Linked DNA regions of Homo sapiens. The protein of the gene in region 2 interacts with the protein of the main gene of each other region in a pairwise test. Each region holds a gene or a part of one and is shown on either strand. Other genes may lie near its edges.

Evidence for each region. Proteins that work in one complex are often made in the same cells at the same time.
Region 1: the proteins of RFX6 (region 2) and KCTD9 interact in binary tests that used the Homo sapiens proteins (3 or more experiments, as listed by UniProt).

What each region holds. Positions count from the first base shown.
Region 1 is NC_000008.11:25,426,844-25,434,498, forward strand, and holds the end of KCTD9 (BTB/POZ domain-containing protein KCTD9), read right to left. Parts: intron 6,593-7,655; coding exon 6,487-6,592; intron 5,811-6,486; coding exon of another isoform or gene 5,795-5,810; coding exon 5,661-5,794; intron 3,131-5,660; coding exon 3,014-3,130; 3' UTR 1,004-3,013; downstream 1-1,003. UniProt on the Homo sapiens protein: Substrate-specific adapter of a BCR (BTB-CUL3-RBX1) E3 ubiquitin-protein ligase complex, which mediates the ubiquitination of target proteins, leading to their degradation by the proteasome.
Region 2 is NC_000006.12:116,879,596-116,888,203, reverse strand, and holds part of RFX6 (DNA-binding protein RFX6), read right to left. Parts: intron 7,661-8,608; coding exon 7,537-7,660; intron 5,838-7,536; coding exon 5,776-5,837; intron 1-5,775. UniProt on the Homo sapiens protein: Transcription factor required to direct islet cell differentiation during endocrine pancreas development. Specifically required for the differentiation of 4 of the 5 islet cell types and for the production of insulin.

The DNA of each region.
Region 1 (7,655 bases), on a different chromosome or scaffold from region 2:
TCCATGGTTAGGTCAGTTTATCAAAAAGTTAAATATAATAAATTGGGTTTAAATAATTGGATTTTATATTTGTCATATTTTTTTCTAAATTTGAAAGAATGGCTTTAGAGAAAAAACTGCTTCATCAACATCAAAACACCTCAAAATTATTACAGCGATGATCTCATAATATCACTGAAATGACAGATGAAAAAAATCTTTTCTTGCCCTAATGTAAAATCTCAGCAGGAAGCACTTAAGGTTAACTCCTGCTGACATGTCTAATCAGGTTGTAAAAGGGTTTCAGAGAATTAATCCTTGGATAAGGTGCTTTATACTGAAATAATGTAACCACTTTTCTTTGTAGTAATGAACCTTTTAATTTTAAAGGTAATTCTTCCTTGGGGACTTACTTAGTGCAATTCTAAGTTTTTTCCATATATTAAAGATGATTTAAAGTTGACATAGGGCAGATTTACAGTACACATAAGAGTCATAAAATGAAATGGAGAAAATATTCCAAGTCTTGATTTATGATTGAACCCTTCATAAGAATAATTAATTTACAACATTTTCTACCAGAATTTCCTTGAGACTATAGTTGAAAGAACTAGACTACAATAGATAGTATTGCTTAGTTGAGTACCAAATTTTATTAATGCAGATAATCCAGCTAGTTTAATTTTGATTTAAAACCTTTTTCCTGTCATCCCAACAGCTGTATTTTTACCTATGTGTACAGACATGTTTCATCTCTAGGGTTAATGGAAGTTTTACTATTTTAACGGTTTCTTCCCTCCTTAAAATTCTCTATCCTAGTTATCAGGCAAAAAATGTTTTGGGGCATGCTATTTATCCAGTCTAATAAAGCTAACTGGTAATATTCATCACCTAAAGAGTGATGAATTTAACACAAACAAATTAAACGAATTATTGGGGAGGCAGTCTTTTCTTTTGTTCAGAATTCATAAGGTTTGTGTTGTTAGCATGGTGTATTTTTAAAAGAATGATAAAAATAATCATGTTTAAAGAAATAAATTTACTTTAATGGTACTTTCAAAAAGACTAATCCATAACAAATTAAGTTATACTGTATTTCCTTTGCTACCCAGAACCACAGGGCTGGTTGTCAACACATATTGAAGAAATGTAAGCAAAATACAGAAAGTGATGATTTTCAAAAGGAAGAGAAGAAACTCCTTTTCAACAAACACTTTATATCATTTATTAATGCAGTATACATTAGATCTAAAATCTGCAGTTTCTAAGCACACCATGTTTAGATCTTTCAGATCCTTCTGCAGTTTTAGGTTATTTCTACAGAGGTACCTTTAAGTGAATGAATACCACATTCTGTAATTCCTGAAAATATAGTACAGAGTGAAATGATTTAAATATAATTTAGGCACATATTGATTATGAAAATAGATTATCTCTCAATACAATACTTCTCTGTCTTGGTAAAAATAATAAAGCAAAGAAAATAATTCATTTCTGAAGTTGCTTTCCTTCACTTGTAAAGGTCTGATCTCCTCCCACTATGCATATGTACCCTTTACTGTTAAGGAAAGCTTTGCATATGTAGATATAGAAGAATAAGCTACGTAAATACTAAAGATATGTCATTCTCCCAAAGGAGACACAGGTGGTTTTCAATGATTCCTTGCCTCATGTTGATGAGTCTGTAGAATTCAGAACCCATTTGGACACAGCTAATATCCCTGCTCTTGGGGTAGAAAATAAGGACACCAAGTCATTGGTAGGGAGGTACAGGCCCTTCCTCTGCTGCTGCAGAGAGAGAATGACTCAAGAAAATTGGGCTAAAATTTGTTTAAAAAAAAAAAACCACAAAAAAATAAGTAAAAGAATCACAGGTGCTGACTGATTGATAATTACATCTTGGACCAGCCAAATGCCTTTATTTTTACGTCTATTTTTTTGGTGGCTGTAATCAAATGTGTGTTTAAAATTCCTCATTCCCCACTGTAGGGTTCTAGCTGCAATTATATTACATTGCCTTTTAGCAGGCAACTCTACCATATTCACTCATATAAGCTTTGATTGCAGTAGCTCTGGATTTAGTATCTATTTCTAAGCTGGCCCTATGTAAACTATTTGGTATTTGAATTAAATGAATATTAATGATGCACCTTGGTTTTTTTGGTTTTGAAGTATCTTCCTATGCTTGTGATGACTGTATGAGAAAACTAGGCTAATAGTGTAAATAGATAGAATTGCTTGATCTGGTGTTGAGTGGAACTTGCCTAGAATGAAATTCTGAGAAATTCTCATTTGTAAGTGTTGTAGTGATAGGTAAGTTATTCCTCCATCCAGAGTTACACTGTACCTTTGGAATGACAGTGATGTACAATGATGTCTTTCTTTCCACTCTGTCTCAATCAGTAAGAACTGGATATTACTTTAATTTAGCTACTGTTCTGTCCTAAAAAGTAAACATTATAAAAATGAACCTGAAAAGAGTCTTAGGGAGTCTGATCTCACCATATTCATACGGTGTGACAGGTATTTAAAGAGGGGAGGCATCACTAAAGCTATTTATAAACCTGAACAACCTTTTCCAAGTTTTCATAAAGTTTTAACAATTTAAATATCCATACTGCATCTAGGAATTCAATAAATATAATTGCATATGTTGTGCTTTCCATAAATTAAAATCCTCAAATGCATCTCAAACCAAGATGGTATTTCCACATCATGCCTATTTAAAAGCAAATATAATAGATACTATGCCTGGTCATAAAACCAGGTAAACCCCCCTACCCCATTCAAAAGGCAGCAATATCTAGTTTCCCTACATCTATTAAATGAGTGCTTTTCTGTTAAAAATCAGAATATGGAAAAAAAGTCAGTTTTTTCCCTTATGCACCACTCAAAACAAGCATAATCCTCTAAATGTTTTTTTTTTAAATTTCCTTACAGTGTTATTTCTTCTAGACAACTGAGTGGGTGGAGAAAGAAAAGTGATAAGGAAAACATTTTCATCTTTTACATCTTCCTCCAGCCCCTAAAATTCTCATCTGACACTTTGTGACATGTGTAGTGGTGTCAGCATCTCTTCAAATATAGCTCCCTTCACGTTGGACCCTCTCAGGTTGGCTTCTTGAAGATCACACCCAGACAGATCACAATTCTGCAAGATGAAAACAATATTCATGTAATTCATGTGGAAATTTCAGGCCTTATCTATTTCTGCTCAAAATGATTTCTGGGGCAGATTAGGAAAATGTTCTTATACAATAAAACTCAGTTAATTTCCGGAAAACTGATGATACACCACCCTAAATTAAGATGTTCTTCTATCTTTATTTGTTACCTCTAGTTCAGGCTGATCACCATAAATATGTATAAACAAAGGTTAAAGAGGAAGCATGTCCCTTGTTCTTGCATATTTTATAAGGAGACATTGAAAACAGGGGTCCCCAACCCCTGGGCCACAGACTGATACTGGTCCATGGCCTGTTAAGAATCAGGCCACACAGCAGGAGGTCACCAGTAGATGAAGCTTCATCTGTATTTACAGCCAGTCCCTGTATGGCTCAAGTTACAGCCTGAGCTCCACCTCCTGTCAGATCAGCAGGGGCATTAGATTCGCACAGGAGCGTGAACCCTATTGTGAACTGCACATGTGAGGGATCTAGGTGGGGTACTCCTCATGAGAATCTAATGCCTGATGATCTGTCACTGTCTCCAACACCCCCAGATGGGACTGTCTAGTTGCAAGAAAACAAACTCAGGGCTCCCACTGATTCTACATTATGGTGAGTTATATAATTATTTCATTATGTATTACAATGTAATACTAGTAGAAATAAAGTGCACAATAAATGTAACGCGCTTGAATCATCCCAAAACCAGCCCCCGACTCTGATCTGTGAAAATATTTTCTTCCACAAAACCAGTCCCTGGTGCCAAAAAGGTTGGGGACCACTGATTTAAAATACAGAATGGATTCCAACATAATAAATACACACACACACACACACACACACACACACACACAATTTTTTTTTTGAAACGGAGTTTTGCTCTTGTTGCCCAGGCTGGAGTGCAATCTCGGCTCACTGCAACCTCCACCTCCAGGATTCGAGCTATTCTCCTGCCTCAGCTTCCAGAGTAGCTGGGGTTACAGGCACTCACCACCACGCCTGGCTAATTTTTTCTATTTTTAGTAGAGACGGGGTTTCACCATGTTGGCCAGGCTGGTCTCAAACTCCTAACCTCAAGTGATTCGCCCACCTTGGCCTCCCAAAATGCTGGGGTTACAGGCATGAGCCACTGCGCCTGGCCCCAAAGTAATAAATATTATCAAAACAATTTTACTATGATCCAAGAACAACAACAACAAAAGGAATGAGATGGGGGGAAGACTTTTTTTTTAATCTGAAAAGATTTTACTTAATCAAATTGTGTAATAGATTTTTCCATTCCCTAGCCCTAGTATTTTTATAGCAAGGAACTGCCCTTCTTTTTAAAGCCCCAAAGGTACGTATATAATACAGTGAGTTTGACAGATGTACAGAACAGTGTAACCACCGCAATTTGAAGCTATTTCTTAATTTGTCTTGAGATCACGGAGCAATAAGATAGAGATTCCACTTAAGTCCCTGGATATGATAGGGGACAATGGTTAGAGAGAAGGGTGACTAAACGTAACCTGTTAGGAGAACAAATGTCAGCAGCTCTCCCCTCAATAGTCAACCTGATCAGTCTTTGCAATCAGAGAGAGGGAGGCTTTTGCTGCTAGGCCACACTGAGTACACAGTACTAAAACCAAGGAAAAAAATATAATCTTAGGTGAAAGTAATGTAACAAACAATAAATAATTGTGCTCGTGATAGGATTATACTTAGGCCAATTCTTTTTGCCTTGAAGTTGAAAGGGGCCTGCTACTCTGCTACCGAGAGCTATCAAGATATCTAGGCAAAAATATTATGAAAAAACATTAACAGCAAGCTAAATTTTGACATACCGTTCTCTGCTATCCAATTTATACCAGATTTCATAGCTACCAGCCACATGTGGCTACTTAAATTTAAATGAATTAAAATTAAATAAAATTTAAAAATCAATTTCTCATTTGCACTAGCCAAATCTCAAGCGCTCAATAGCTATATATGGGTGGTAGCTACTATACTGAACAGCACAGATATAGAACATGTCCCTCCTGCACAAAGTGCTATTGGATAGTGCTGATATAGACCTATCAACAGCTATCAAGTCTGCTAGCTAAACTGGCAAATTAAGAAGACATACAAATATAATTCTTTGAAAAAGATGACCAGGCAAAATTATAATCTCAAGCTGAAAACCAAAAAACATATGGTTCCAATTTCAAATAGACTTTTCCTGAACCTGATTTCAAACCTGGATATCATTTAAATTTCTCAAGTAGTTTAAGAAGTAATCTAGCCCATTTAATTCTATTCGGAATTAAATTTTATGGAAAATGCAATACATTAGATAACACATCTATCAAACTTATTTACTTGAGAAAAACTCAAGGAAAAGGAGAGAAATGAAATCAACTTAGACTGAATGTCAGATGAGTCTTCCAATCCAGTTTTACCAGCCAACTACTTTGTTTTGATTTCAATAAATTTTGCATGAGATGCTTAGTAAGTCTAGAGTAATAAAAATTCTTAAAGTGTTGGTGAACTCACCTCTAAATCAGTTCCTGCCAGAGTTGCTCCTCTGAGGTTACAGTTCTTCAACTTTGCATTTTTTAAGGTAGCCACTCTCAGGTTAATTCCTGTCATCTGACTTCCTTCCATATCCACACCTTTCAGATTAGCACCTACAGTGAACACATTCTGGGAGTAGTTTAACTTAAAAATATAGTTATCTACCTTCAACAGAACTGCAAGATGACTTAATGGAGGCCTCTTTTAACTTTTGGAAATTAATCTAAAATCTTGTCTCTCAACGAACTTATATATATAAACAGTTTACTGATGAAAGAATGCTTTCACAATACTTTTGAGGGAAGAAATTTAGTTCTGTCTTATGATAGTTAGCACTTTCATAATATGCCTCTACAGGTTTATGATAAGGGAGTGAAGTAGTCTCCTAAATATACAAGTAAACAAAGTGATCAGTCACAGATAGTAACAAATTAAGAAACAATACATTAAATCTAAAAATGATTTTTAAAAACTCCCTGGCTTTATGCAAATGAAATTTTTCCTTTTGGTCAGTGTAAGAATATTTTATTCCATTTGAAAGTTTAAGATGTTGATATTTAATTTTCCAACTAAAACCTTATTAAATATTTGAGGTTTTATTTTTTCTGAGTCCTCAATTTTGATTAGCATTTGACTGAAACCAAATGGAGGTTTCTTACCACTTTGGAAGTTCTCCAAATATGATGACAGAAGAAACCTATCCCCTACAGCTATCCTGTTTCACCCTTAACAATTATTTTCCAGGGCTTTTTTCCTTTACAGTCTGCTTCCTTCGTAGAATAGGTATTTACAGAAAGGATCTCACCTTCTAAATTGGCTTTAAGACCAGAAGGATCCTCAAAATTACACAGTTTCAGGGATGCTCCTTCTGCATTAGAACAGAGCATCTTGACTCCCTGGAGATTCGCACACTGCAAAGAAAAGAGAAAAGTCCTGGTTGTAAGGTTCATAATTTTGTTCAAATTAGCTCAAACAGTAAAAGAAAAAAAATAGAAAAGAGGGAAAGGCTCAACTCAAAACACTCATACTCAATTTTATTTTCTGTTTACAATAAAGGCTTTTCTAATTAAATACAGTAAGAACTGGGAACATTTGAAAGAAAAATTTTTTTAAAGAACTGTTTTTTAAAAAATAAATGCAAATTAACAATAGCATGCTCATTTTACATGAAACATAACGGTTTAGATAAAGAAGTTGGGTGAGTCAGAACTCTGACACCTCTATCTCTATTTTTATAAACATACCTATGCATGACAATGAAACAGTCAAAATGTATGGGTAAGGAAGGCATAGACTTGTTAGGGGTATGGATTTTCTTATTACTGTAGGAATCTTGATGTTCTAAGTGAAATTCTTGATATTCTAAGATGCTACTACTGCCCTCAAGTCAGAGGTCAGAATACAAAAGCCAGCATTTAAAGGCATTATTTAGCTAGAAAACACTAACAAGATGCTGGCTGGGTCTTTCTGCACCAACCATGGCTAAACATTATTAACCCTGAGCAGGCACATCACAATGCATAATGCAGGGCAGAGAGTAAAATGGTAGAAAATATATGTTTTAAGACTTTATTTTTTTGTTTTGTTTTGTTTGAGACAAAGTCTCACTCCGTCACCCAGGATGGAGTGCAGTGGTGCTGTCTCAGCTCACTGCAATCTCTGCCTCCCAAGTTCAAGTGATTCTCGTGCCTCAGCCTCCTGAGTAGCTTGAATTACAGGCATGCACCACCACGCCTGGCTAATTTTTGTATTTTTAGTAGAGACGGGGTTTCGCCATGTTGGCTAAGATGGTCTTGACCTCAAGTGATCTGCCTGCCTCTGCTCCCCAAAGTGCTGGGTTTACAGGCATGATCCACCACACGCAGCCAAGAGTTTTAAATTATGTTCATTTATCTCAAAGCGTTTTTGACAAACATCTTTTTTTTTTTGTCCTTAACACAAACAAAGATGCCTCTCGACATTTCACTATTTAAA
Region 2 (8,608 bases):
TATAGAATTCCTGAAACATATGTTCCCACTGAGCTAGTAGCCCTGATGTTAGTTTACACTACACAAATGATAACTGATAAGGAAATGATGGGATTAAGCTGTTCAGGGACTTGCAATAACTTGCTATGATAAGAGCAGCTGCCGTATCAGTTTTATTAACCCACTAAATCACTACTAATAAATAAGATAATAGCTTTTGTCCATCATGTCTGAAAACCAAGATTTGGCTGATCAAAGTCTACAAAAAATTAAAATGTAACTTAAAATCAAACAGTCTACCATGTGTGTAAAATCTATTTGTGGGCTCAATTATGTTCTCCTTTACTTAGCCAAGCCATTCTGAGCAAGGGTGGGATACAAGGTTTTTGCTTATCATTGTACCCGAGGGCCTAGTTAGCAACGGGACCCTCAGTAAAATGCTTATTAAATAATTAAGATGAGTAGCGAAAGTTCTTTGCCAGCAGGTACCCTGTTTTACAATTCTTTGCATCTCAAAAACTCTTTAGCATCACGCTTTGTACATCCATGTCAGTAGGAATGGACTGATTATTCTCAATGTATTCATAACCATAAAATATGCAAGAATGATTCTTCATTATTATCCTTATAGAACTTTGTTTCATTTTTTATTTATTCAAAACCTCAATTAAAAAATATCACAGATAATAAAACCAGGTGTATACTTTTGGAATTGGTAGTAAAACTAAAGGGAAGAAAAGAAGAAACATGAAAGTAAAGTCAATTTTTATCTTGGTATTGGGAATGTACAGTGTCTGCCGCTGGGGTTGCTGGTTTTCTTGGCTGGCAGGGGATGGTAAGCGTGAAGGAACTGGATAGAGAGCTGAGCTGCTAATGGACCTGCAAATTGACTGGCTTTGTCCCCAAAGCACACTTGTTAGGTGCCCTAGAGTGACGCTTCCTGACCCCTCATGTTCATCTTTAGAGATTTTTTTTTTCCATAACCATCAGCAGCAGTGGCCTTTGATGTGGAATGTTGAACTTGCCACTGAAAACAAATTACTCCATTTTTAATTGTTCCTAATTTTGACAGTGGATGATATCTGGCCCTACACAGTGATCCTGTCTGTTTAGATTTTTTTGTTTTATTATTTTTTTATTTTTGTTTTGTTTTGTTATGTTTTGAGATGGAGTCTCGCTCGGTCGCCAGGCTGGAGTGCAGTGGTGCGATCTCAGCTCACTGCAACCTCCGCCTCTCAGGTTCAAGTGATTCTCCTGCCTCAGCTTCCTGAGTAGCTGGGACTACAGGTGCGCACCACCACGCCCAGCTAATTTTTGTATTTTTAGTAAAGACAGGGTTTCACCATGTTAGCCAGGATGGTCTCAATCTCTTGACCTCCTGATCCTCCTGTCTCAGCCTCCCAAAGTGCTGGGATTACAGGTGTGAGCCACCACATCCAGCCTATTTTTTTTTGTTTTAATATATCTGTTTTAAATATTTTATCTCTTCCATTTAATTGAATAAATTTTGGGCTCATTTTATACAGTCAAACTTTTTCATCTTTCACTTTTCAGTGAGGGAAAGAAGTAGCACATGCACAAATGTGAGAGCTGTGAAGACATTACTGTAATTAACAGCCAGTTATTTCAAAACTTAGGAAAATAGAACTTGAAAATAGACACCACATTCATTCATGATTTTTAGGCCCTACTAATCATCTCTTTGTCACATAGATTAGTGTTTTCCAAACTTTGGGTTTTATATAGGGACCAGTAAAATTTAGAGAGTGACATTGCTTCATGAACCTCAAAGACATCTAAGAACAATTTTTAAAAAGAGGGTGCTATCTCATGCCCAGAGTACAGGAGAACCTTTTGAGTCAATCATAATCTAAAATAAATTCTGATAGTCCCCAGTGAGATGACTGGACATACTCTAGCTATCCTATAATAATTTGGCCAAACTGAGAACTCATTTTTTAAGTAATCATCATCAGAACAGTTTCACAATGTTTGTATGTATTAGTATGCAATCCAAGGAAGTTAAAATAAATATCACATTTATTTATATTTTTTAAATAATTCAACAAATATTTAGTAATACTATGCTAAAAGTACTGTATTAAACACTACAATAACAATAAAATGTTTTGCAAAATTACTAGTAAAATTGGGAGAAATTATGATTCCCTGATTTTCTAAGGTATACTTACTTTATATTTCTGTCTTTCATTCAGTTGTTCATATTTCCATAGAAACATAAAAATATTTTTATAAAATGTAAGTTTATGAAATAATAGCCATTAGAAATGTTTGCAAAGATAATATATAACAGAGACATGTTTAGGACTAAAATTAAAAGGCAGAAAATAAAATTGTGCTACAAATTTGCTGTTAATATAAAACACAAATACCTCTAAATTAAATGCCTTACAATTGTGGCATGGTAAAGTGTTGTTTGTTCTCTGAAGAAGAATCTAATATGTTAATAAAGTTTAAGAACTGTTAGATCTGTTAAAAAAAAACTTAATAAAACTTATATGTCAAAAATCAAACATTCAATTGAATAATTATTTGTTGATACGATTGATATTGGAAAAAAAGTAGTAGGCTTCCCTACTTTTACTAGCAGATAAAACATAAACTTTAGAGTCAGATATACTTTGATTCAAATGCCAGCATTGTTATTATGTATTATCTATGTGGCCTTGGGCAAGCCAATAACCTTTGAAATGCAATTTCCTCATTTGTAATACAGTAATTCCTATCTTCTATCATTATTGCAAGGATTAGAGATGAGTGCATGCATCTGTGTGTGTGTGTAATACTCAGTAAATAACTTCTAATTGTAGTGCAGATATTTTATATTGAGTCATTAATTTTTTATTATTAAGGATAGTGCGGTTGAAAGCATATTCACTACTATATTCATTCCTATACTTTATCTCATTTAACTCTCACAACAATCCTATAAGATATTGTATACCCACTTTACTGGTGAAAAGCTGAATAACCTTACAATAAATCACTAGCTGGAAAGCTGGTGTCACACAGCTATACATGGAAACATCAGATTCATGTTTAAAGTTGTCCAACTTTAAAGCCTATGTCCCTAACCATTAGGCTATACTGCCTTTTGATATTCTATCTTCCAAGATAAAAGCTAAGGATATTTCTTGGAAATAAAGGCAGAAACATACCTAGCTAAGAATAATTATGTCAAAAAAATTACTATTTACAAGATATACAAACTACATTTTGCTATATTTTTACCATATGTAGTTTAAATATGGAAAATTAATTTTTCTCTATGATATAAACATATCAAAAAAGTCACGTCACAAATATCAAATGGCATATCAGCACAGCAGAAAAAAATTCAAATTGTTAATGCCTTGCTGTTGGGCACATCTATGGCTCTTGGATTCAAATAAATTGCCCGAAGTCACCCCATGTTGTTACATCAACCTAAGTACTAGAGCCCCACTGTGACACAATGGACAGGGTTAATGATTCATCCCTAATCCTAAAGGCTCCTTCAAAGATTAATTGACTTTCCCTGCAGCCTGCCAGCCCACCCTCTTATAGATCCTGTCAAGAGGGTTTCTCTTCATTGCTCGGCCTCTTTTCCCCCTATCTATTTACTTTAAACACTATCTGATCTTTCCTCAACCAATACAATTCAGTAGGAATCAAATTCAGTAGAAATCAGTCAGTTAAACTGATCAAACTTTGAAATAAAGTTGACTTGGTTAGAAGGAAGGGACCCATTTTGCCTTTTTGAATCTGGCACTTTATTTATTCTTTCCAGGCCACAATAATGTTAACATTAATTGCAATCAATTAAATAAGTATTAATTGATAATCTATTATATATCGACCAACAGAAAGAATATAAAAGTGAATGAGACAAAGTTTCTGTCCTCAAAATATGTATTATCTGTTTAGAGGAGGAGATAAGTTAATTTCACATTAAGATAGGTACCAGCAAACTGCCACAGGGTGCAGAGAAGGGACCTACAATAAATCAATGGACTAAAAAAAGATCTAAAGGAAGAAGTTCAAGAGACATTCTTTCAAATGGGTAAAATTTCAACATACATATATGGGAAAAGGCATTCTCCAGGGGAAGACAGCATAAACTTAAACAGAAGACTGGCAGTTGGAGTGAATCAAAGGTTACTGGGATAATTATTTGGTGAGCACATAGACTACATGCTAGAAAGTAAGAAATAGGTGACATAGTAAAATGAACTTGGACTAAATCATGATGGACCTTGAATGTCAAGTTGAGGAAAGTTTGTTGTTAATAGTAGAAATTATGAGCCAGTGGAGGTTTTGAACATGGAAGAGATATGATTGAATCTCAACTTTAAAAGGTCAGTTTGGAAAAATTGCATGAATGGACAAGAAAGACAGAGTCAAGGCCAGGCTATGAAAGTAGCAATGAGGAGAGTCATATTCAAAAGAATTCAAAAAGTAGGACCTATGTTTTTGCAAGTGTCTAAAGCTGAGCTATCCAATAAAGCAATAAAGCCACTGGCCATATGTGGGGGTAAGCACAGGAAATGTGGCTAGTCTAAACTGAGATGTGATGTAAGTGTAAAATACACACTAGATTTCAAAAACGTAGTATGAAAAGAAGAATGTAAAATATCCGATTAATAATTTTTATATTGATTCCATAGTGAGATAATAATGTTTTGGATAAATTGGATTACATAAAACATTAAAATTAATTTCGCTTGTTCCTTTTTACTTTTTAAACGTGGCTTCCAGAAATTTTTGAATTAAATATGTGGCCACATTATACTTTCATTGATCAGTGCTGGATGTGATGTCAGGGCAGAAGGAGGCAGTGGACAAGCCAGAAAAGGAGTGGTAGAAGAGGGAAGAGGGCCTAGATAGTACTATGACAGAGAAGCTATAGAGGTAGTTTTCTGTATTTATTTTAAGAGGGCATTATCAGTTGGTTCAAATGCTAAGCAGGAGCCAAGGAAGATGAGTAACAGTAAAAACCAGCCATTGGATTTTTGCCCAGGTAGGAAATGGACTAGGTCAGAGGGATGTGATCAGTGGTAAGGGAAGCAACAGCTCAAAGGGGGAAATACTAGAGCAATCATGAAGGTTGGAACTTTTTTCTTTCTCAGCATAAAGGAGATCTGGACATGCTCATAGGCAGAAGGAAAGGAGAAACTGAAAACACAGTACGCATAGAAAATAGCTGTTGAATGAGAAACTGTACCTGGGAGTTCTCCAGAGACTGCCACAACAGAGAGGAAAATTTAAAGACATAAAGAGGGGGAATGTGTGACAGCTTAGTTTATGTTTATATTTACCTTAAGAGATGACCAAACAGGTCATCTGTGCATGTCATTTGTCTTAAAGAGAAGAGAAGGAGATATCAAGAAATTATTGTCTCAGAAAGAAAACTAGAGGAAGAACCTGAAGCATGCTAAGGCACTTCCTTCCTACTCAAAGCTCTTTACCCCCTGGTTTGGGCCTTGCTCTTTGGGAGCGTTGCATTCCTCCTCATAACACTGGTGCCTTCAGTAACAGCTTTAAGATTATGAAAATGACTCATTTAAATTATTTCAGCAGAAATAATAATACATTATTATTTTCAAATGTAAAATTTGCTTTTTAAACATTATTCTAAAATCTTTTTTTTTTTTTCAGTTCTCACAGTTGATAAAAGTCTGCTTCATCAAGAGAATACCTGGTTCTCTTTGTACTGACAAAGACAATACTTATTTTACATCTGTGTCAATCTTCATGCACAAGAGCAGAACCTGAATATGTTCACTGGTATCTTACTTTGAATGGCCTCTTGTTCCAAGCCGCCTTGTTGTTAGGAGGGGAAACTTCTGGCGAATTGTCTAAAAAGAAAGATGATTACTTTAGGCGTTAGAAAGTATATGGTCCTAATGCAAGCCACTCATAGCCAATTACTTGGGGAAAGTAAATGTTGAACTCTGAATGAACTGTGAGTGAATACTTAGTCTGGAAAAAGTAATAACTTACACATATTGATAAGCAATACATCAGCAGAGGCAGGGAGGTACTTTTTTGATTGAAGTGCTCTACTGACCTTGTCTTGATTTCTAAGGCAGATCATACCAATATCTGCTTTTGCTTGATGGTACTACCAAAGCAATTATTACTTTATTTATGTATGGAGTGAGAAGATTTGGGTCTCTTCATATAATTCCATACAGAGATTTACCCACAATTAAAAATCTATTCCCAACCCCAAAGGACATATAAAACTTTCTCTGCCTTACTGTATCTCCATTATAATGTTATAAATTTTTTGTTTTGTATGTTCCTTTCTCTAAAGTTGCTAAAATTAGGATCTGATTAAACATTTTTTAAAAAGTCTTCTACATAAAACAATTTTAACCTCAATCTTTGAAGATCCATACATGAACTTTAAAGAGCTCCATGGCAAACTATGTATGTATTAATTTCTTGGAGGCTGGCTCTACAGTTTTACCAGGTTTTCAAGGTGCTTCATGACTGCCAAACAGTTAAGAATTATTCCCATAAGGTAGACTCACAAAATGGTAATGTTAATATGGATATTAGAAGTTGTCTTATCCAAACTCCTCATTTAATAGAATGAGTAAACAGATTTTTAAAGAGATTAAGTGCTTTTCAGAAGGTCTCACAATAAATTAGTCCAGTCTAGGCTAGAACCCAGGTTACCTGATTACAATGTATAATATCACACTCTCTCTGTAAATAGATAGGTTTTTGAAATAAATAACATTATTTTTTAAATGAGAAGCTGGACTGTAGTATTCATTATTTTCTGGACAATGAGTCCCTCTACAGGTTAGAATCTGGATTTCAATTTGTGTAAGATACAATATTTGAGACCCAAGCTTCCTAAAGTTTTTCTGGGATATCCTAGGTTCTCAAACACAGCATGACATGAATCTTAAAGAACAAGGCTTTCTTAAGACATTCATATTGATTCTCAAAGTGATGTCTCTCTCTCTATATATAAGCATAATAATGTCAGTTATATAGATTCCCATCCTAACCACACAGGTTGGGTAGAAAGAAATATTTTTAAATGAGAGAATTCTAACCCATCCCATCATAAAATCTTGGGATTTGGAATGTAAACATAGAGTGAAATGGAGAATTAGGAGAAATTTTAATACATTTTAAAACCTATTAAAAACTCATATATTTGGACTAGGTAAATAGTATGGATAACCACTAACCACTAATTGCATTAGCAAGAGACTTGTCACCTCCACTTAATTTTGCTTCTTACCACAGGCCATACTATACACTTTAATGCATCCCTCTTTGAAGGCAAATGCTACTGCTTAAACAAAGCTTGCTTTAAATTCACATTAGATCTTCTAATAGTTAGGGTTCTAATATTCAAAATCAAGTTATAAACATATAGCAATTCCAAACAGAGTCCTTAAGACAATTTATGCCTGCAAAACAAATGTCTCAATATTCTCTAAGAGAACTTGCACAGATGAATTCATTTTCATGCTATCTGCCTGACATGACTTTAGTTATAAGTCACTATAGCCAATACGTGTCATTTACCTTTCCAAAGGTGGCCGCACAGGCTGGCTCTAATTTCTCTTTCCTACAGAAATCTAAGTAGTGTGCATAAAGAATGCACCGTGGTAAGCAAACTCCTTCACATACAATGTAATTCTCTTCAAGCCTAAGAAAAAGGAACAAAAATTAGGTCAAATATTTTATTTCCTTTTCCTTCAACTTTCTCATTGACTTATTACCCATTTTGAATATGGACTCTATAAATGAGGTAATGAGTAGACATAAGTAGACTTCGTTTATTCTGGATATTTTTTAAAAATCAAATTATAAGGATTAATGTTAAAAGTACAAAACCCCAGTGAAAAATCTGCTAGTACAGTTAAAATATCATGGCTAACATAAAACCATGCCTGGTCCACATCACAAATATTAGGTCTTCTATATAAACCTCATGGTTCATCATGATTTGCTCTGTGACATATAAATATGAATGGTGAAATTGAAGATGATGGGTATTTTTTAAAACATTCTTAGTACTAAAGGGCTGTCAAGCTTCAGGTTGGCAAATGCTTACATTCTCTCACTTTCATTCAAAACCTATTTCTCAGCCCTGAATAATTAGGGAAGGACAATGATGCATTTATTTGCAAAACACATGAGGATAAACTCATTTTACTTAAGTCTGAAATGACACTGATATATTTCTATTCCTATACTTTTTACTACTGTCATCAGTACTATAATTATCTAAAACATCCTATACACTTAAAAGATAATGTAATTCTCTATAGATATCTCCAAACATAACATATATACCTTCAACTTTATATTATAAAAATAACTATATAACCTTTGAAAATTTGAAGTAATTCCATTTAATTTGTAACTAAGCATAACTTATATAAATGTAATAAATACATATTTGTGTTACAACTTTCTAAACAGCAATGTAGAAATTAAACTTTTAGATTCCAATCCCAGTTTTCCTAACAGTTCAGTAGGTGATTTTGACTAAAATTTACTTATACCAATTTTATGTATAGTAAGATAATATTTATTATAATGCAGAAACGATGCAATATAGAGTCTGCAGATTAAAATTGGATGAAACCCT